Linked DNA regions of Homo sapiens: region 1 is linked to region 2. Evidence: fine-mapped expression QTL. Tissue or cell type: whole blood. Region 2 holds a variant in brackets; the other region holds the start of a gene. All regions are shown on one strand. Distances are from middle to middle. Region 1 holds the start of LSMEM1 (leucine rich single-pass membrane protein 1). Region 2 has its middle 5.2 kb from the start of IFRD1.

Region 1 (2,923 bases), 36 kb before region 2:
TTCTTTTAGATGTGTTTCATATTTTATCATCCATTTATACTAATATTTGACCAAACAGTAATATGTGACCAGGAAAAAAAGTTTTATGTGTCACATCACAGGACCACTGTTCTGCACACAGCTTCTATTTTAGGTGTGGTAACTGAAGCATGGTTCATTTTTGGATCTCTGACTTAATAGCCTTGAGCCTTAGCTTCCCCTTCAGGAATGTATCTGCTGTTGCTTCAATTTCATACTGAGGCTTAATCAATGTTTACAAAATAGAGACCTAGCTAGAAAATCATGGCCACAAAAACTGACTTTAAGAGTACAGCTAATAAAATCTCCATATTACTGGTCTTGCTATCTACTCAAAAGGTGACTCCAAAAAAAACTAAGACAACAACCTAGTGAGCCATGACGTGCTTTGAAAGAAAATGTCTTCTTTAGAGTGAAGTCACAATGTAAATATATGCTATTCCAATATTTTTTTAATGAGCTGCAACACGCAAATGGAAAAATAAAGAACTAGCAGAGAAAACTGAGTTGGGTGCTGTTCCAGGGCTCCAAGAGCCTGCAAATGACTTGCAAATGACTCATGAGGCTGCTAGTAAAGGGATACAAGATCACATGGCCTTAAAACCAGGCCCCACGGCTGTTTGACACCCAGTAGTTGCTATCTTTGGCATCTCCAAATGAGGGCATCTAGGAACAACCAGCAAGGCTGGAGAAGCCAGTGTTACTAGCAATTCTTCATCACACTAACTTGACCCTCCTTTCAACTCCAGTGTGCAAATTTGCTTATTCACCAAGATTGGCTAAAGCAGCATCCCTTTAACAGAACCCTTTCTTATACCTTGACTGGAAACATGTAAGTAATTTCATTTTCCTCTGGTTTAGATCACTGCTAACAGTTGATTTTTTGTCATTTAAGAATTCTTTGACTATTTACAAATAAATATTCCAACAAATAAAGATAATTGTCTATGAAAAATTGCCTGGTGCTTTATTTTTTAACCAGGCAGGTGCTTGGTATCAAACCACAGAAATAACTCACACCAGTATTGCTTGCCACAAAATCAGAATTGTTATAATAGGGCATAATTCAAAGCTAATAAGCAGTGTTATTGAATGAGTCATGGTAATTTGTTCTTTAATTTCATTTCCCAGTCAATGCCTCTTCACATTCAGGAAGTAATTTTTAAAATCAAGTCTAAATCATTTCTATCAAAAATGAAAAACACAGAGCACATGCAACAAAAACTTCCCAGACTCGAGAATCATAATTCAGTCTCAGTAGAGTAATAGCATGCAAATTACTTACAAAAATGTGAGCTTTGACTGCTAGGTTACCAGAAAAACAAAACAAAACAAAACAAACAAACAAAAACTAATTGTTCAGAAGCAACTACAACAAAACTTTTCTACAAATTCTGTAGTTCTCTCTTTGCCTTTCTTCAGCATACGGGTGCTCCTATGAGACCCATAAGCCCCAGGATGAAACTGTTGGTCTATATTGTGTCAATTTAGCCAAGCAGTGTAAGATTCCAAATCCTGACTTTTTTCATAATGTCTAAGGTTTTTAGTAAATATATTACTAAAACTATGCTTTAAAAAGAAAACAACAAAAAAACACCATGCCCTGATTTAGTTGGTAACTGATGAGGTTTTTATTGGACTGAAGTTACCGTCCTTATCTGGCTGAAGCAACTGTTAGCTGACACCACCTTTCCAGCACTCCTGCCATGGTATGCTTCCATATATAAATATCCTGTAGCAGGCGGAAGCTGCCACTATGATGACTGACTTGCAAACACTCCAGACAAACCAGAGAACTGCAATAAACACGGACAGAATATGATTATGACATCATAACAAGGATGATGGCAGGTCAGACGCCTAGTGCTTCCAGTAGCTACAAAAAGCGATTGTGAGTGGGCGATTTCATGGATACAGACCCACCACAGGTGAAGGAAGCACTCCATCTCATCGGCCGCCTTTCCTTTACAAAGGCTTTGTTCTGTGAGTGTCTGCACATCCTCCTTTCTCAGGAATAACAGCCTTCCATATATGTGGTTCCCTCACATACATGCCAAGGAGCTTCTGCCCTCTGCTGTACATAAAAGATGCTACAGTGATGAGGAGACCAACTATCTCAGCAGGATACTAACAGTGAGGTTGTGAACAACTGTGCAATCCTTTATCATCCTCACTTCCATTGCCATAGCTTGATGGACATTATTCATCTTTGAAACATTTTTCATGTCAGTGAGAAAATAGGTGTTCCACAAAATTTTCTTTGAGACAGAGTCTTGCTGTGTTGCCCAGGCTGGAGCGCAGTGGCATGATCCCAGCCTACTGAGACCTTCCTGCTTCCAGATTCTCCTGCCTCAGCCTCCCAAGTAGCTGGGATTACAGGTATGTGCCACCATAGCTGGCTAATTTCTTTATTTTTAGTAGAGATGGGGTTTCACCATGTTGGTCAGGCTAGTCTTGAACTCCTGACCTCAAGTGATCCACCCACCTCGGCCTCCCAAAGTGCTGGGATTACAAACTTGAGCCACCATGCCCGGCCCAAAATTTTCTTTACACCTATATCCCATACGGACCTCACTCTGCTTTGGGGGAAGAGGAATGTCATTTTTTTTTTCCCTTCACACTACCTAGTCTAAGAGGGAATGTCATTTTTTCAAGCCTCATCTGTACCCAAAGACTAATTCTTGGAGGAAGACAATATAACTAGTAACTTTTCTCAGAAACATACGTTAAAAAGCTATGTCAAATTTCTCTGAATAATGAAAATGTTCATGTTAGCTATTATGCTGTTTTTAAGAAATCTCCCAACTACCTGATCTGCCTTGAGCCATGTATCCTTTGAAGATATAATAGAAGTAACTGCCTCATTTTGGGGCGTTTACTACTTTTCCTCTCCTGTAACTTCTAA
Region 2 (2,923 bases):
CAACTTAAAAACACAAAGTTCATTCCCCACTTAAGACTTGCAACAGCTCCTCCCTCTGCCTGATATGATCAACCCGAGCTTCCCACACTTGCCATTCAGATCTGAGCTTAAATGACACCTACCTGAAGAGGCCTTCCTACTCTCCCACTCTTCCACTCTCCATTCTAAGGTCGCATCCTCACCCCACCTACCACCAGCACCTCCACCCTGCTTATATTCTCCCAAAGTACATCGCACTACTTAATATTTTTTGGCCCAATTATTTTTTGTCTCTTCTACTAGAATGTTAGAATTACAAGAAAGAGATCCTGTCTGTTTTATTCACTATTGTATCTTCAGTACTGGAACAGTACGTGGCACTTAGATATTCAATTATTTTTTACTGAATGTTTACACCACTCCTGAGAAGAATAAGCGTAAGCGAAAGAAGGTGAAGCTGGCTGTCCTGAAATACTGTAAGGTGGATGAGAATGGCAAAATAAGTCGCCTTCATCTAGAGTGCTCTTCAGATGAATGTGGTACTGGAGCGTTTATGGCCAGCCACTTTGACAGACATTATTGTGACAAATGTCTCATTGCTTCAGCAAACCAGAAGACAATTAATTGTGTATGAGTTAATAAAAGACATGAACTAACAAAACACATTTACTGAATGAATAAATGTATTAATAATTAAATGTCACTCCTCTGCCTAGAACATCCTTCCCCACGATCTCCCCATCATCCTTTAAGTTACTGATCCTCGGTCACTAATCCTGGGCCCCCCAAATTGTCTGATTTAAATGTCTTTCTTTTTTGTTCTTGCAGTGCCTTCTTTAGACTAGCATTAATTATATGTATTGTAGGGTTTTTTTACTTCTTTTTTTTTAATATGTATTGTAGTTCTTGATTACTTGTCTGTTTTCCCCTCAGACATGAGATACAAGCTACATGCTACTTGTGGGCAAAGCCCAGTTTTGTCACTTCTGAAACACACATGTAGCACCTTTGTGCAAATTAGAAACAGAACACCAAGTCTGATGAGTGTTTATGGGCTGGAATCCAGTCACCAATCTCTCTTCAGCAGGGAACAACCTATACATCTGTACATAGTGGCCCAGTAGACAATAACTGTGTTTTTAATTGAATGAGGGAGTCAATTTCCTCTGTATTTTAGCAGTTTTCTTAAAAGCAAAGGAACTAATGTGGGGAAAAGGATGAGGCTAACATTTATTGCAAGTCCACACTGCCACTGTTCTAGACTGTTTTCACACCTCTCATGTAATTCTTACAACAACCCTACGCAGAAAAGATTAGTTTTACCATTTTGTGGATGAAGAAATGAGCTTAGAGAGGTTTTGCAACTTCCCCAAGGTCGTACCATTGGTAAACAGTGCGTCTGTTGTGATGAAAGCCTAGGCCGGCCGGGCGGGGTAACTCACACCTGTAATCCTAGCACTCTGGGAGGCCAAGGTGGGCGGATCACAAGGTCAGGA[G/A]ATCGAGACCATCCTGGCTAACACGGTGAAACCCCGTCTCTACTAAAAATATAAAAAATTAGCCGGGCGTGGTGGCGGGCGCCTGTAGTCCCAGCTACTCGGGAGGCTGAGGCAGGAGAATGGCATGAACTCGGGAAGCGGAGCTTGCAGTGAGCCGAGATTGCGCCACTGCACTCCAGCCTGGGTGACAGAGCGAGACCCTGTTTCAAAAAAAAAAAAAAAAAAAAAAGAAAGCCTAGGCCTATCTGATTCCAAGTTTGCCTCTGGCTGGCTTTGGTCATATGGGAACCTGAGTGCTTGTTCCTAGGAGTCATGGGTTTTCTTGTTTGCTTTTTTATAATTTCAACTTTTAGATTCAGGGTATAATGTACAGGTTTGTTACATGGTTATATTGCATGATGCTGAGGTTTGGGATATGAATGATCCCGTCACCTAGGTAGTGAGCATAGCACCCAGTAGTTTTTCAACTCTTTCCCCCTCCATCCCTCCCGCCTCTAGTAGTCCCCAGTGTCACTGTTGCTTTTTTATGTCCAGAGTCATGGGTTTTATTTGCAATGCTGCGAGAAAAGGCCCCTTGAAGTTAAATTTTGCCTTGTTCCCCTTTTTTTTAGAGTCTCTTCACCCCTAGTATCAGTATACAGGGGACATTCAGTTGTTGACTGCCTGATGAATGTTTGCCAGTGTAAGTTTTTTCTGATATTTCTAAAGCTTTAGCAGAACTTTATTATTAAATAGTAATGTTATTCCATCAAATAATTTTTTACATGGATTATCACTTGTTGTGTTTTAGATTGCATTGTTTTCTTAATATGTTTGCAATTTTTGTTTTATTGCCAAGAATGGTGATAATACAGCATGCTAAATTTGAGATCCCTGTTTGTTAAGAAATGATTCGGCGGGCAAATTTAGTTAGAACTCTTTAAGCCTTAAGATATATTTTGTTTGCTTTTTTCTTTTTGTTGTGTAGAAGATACTTCTTTGTGGTTTTCAGTTTTGAAATTACATACACTTTCTGTAATGAAATTTCTGACAAAAGACAGTCAGTGTTTAATTGTCTTCTAAAATGGGAATGTTGCTTATCTCACAAAGCTGCAGTATTATCAATAATAAAATATGAGACTGTGTTAACAGGGTACTGTGAGCCATAAGTACCATAATACACACAGCCAAACTAGGATAGTTATGACGCATTATGTTGGAAGAACTTTTTATGGCAACAGCGTAAGTAGGAATTATCTTTTTGTTGAACATAAAGAATATCAGTGGACTTTTCCATTTGGATATCCTGACTCTTCATACCAAACATAACCAAAATCAACTTGTTCTTTACCAACCTCTCTACATTCTACAACTAGTTTTGTTTTTTTGTTTTTGTTTTTGTTTTTTTGGTGGGGGATGGTGTTTGTTTTTTGGGTTTTTTTTTTTTTTTGAAACAGAGTTTCACTCTT

What was found. PIP is the estimated chance that this variant, and not a neighbour inherited with it, causes the effect.
Region 1: LSMEM1 starts here. The variant in region 2 is fine-mapped to the expression of LSMEM1 in whole blood (TOPMed, PIP above 0.99).

Annotation. Positions count from the first base shown.
Region 1 is chr7:112,479,727-112,482,649 of GRCh38, reverse strand. It overlaps LSMEM1 (leucine rich single-pass membrane protein 1), which reads right to left and starts at 1,659. Exons shown (of 4, transcript NM_182597.3): 1 at 1,304-1,659.
Region 2 is chr7:112,443,844-112,446,766 of GRCh38, reverse strand. It overlaps a transcript of LOC105375457 not described here and a transcript of IFRD1 not described here. Among named protein-coding and RNA genes, the nearest start is that of IFRD1, 5.2 kb to the left of the region's middle. The variant G/A (reference allele first, on the strand shown) is at 1,476.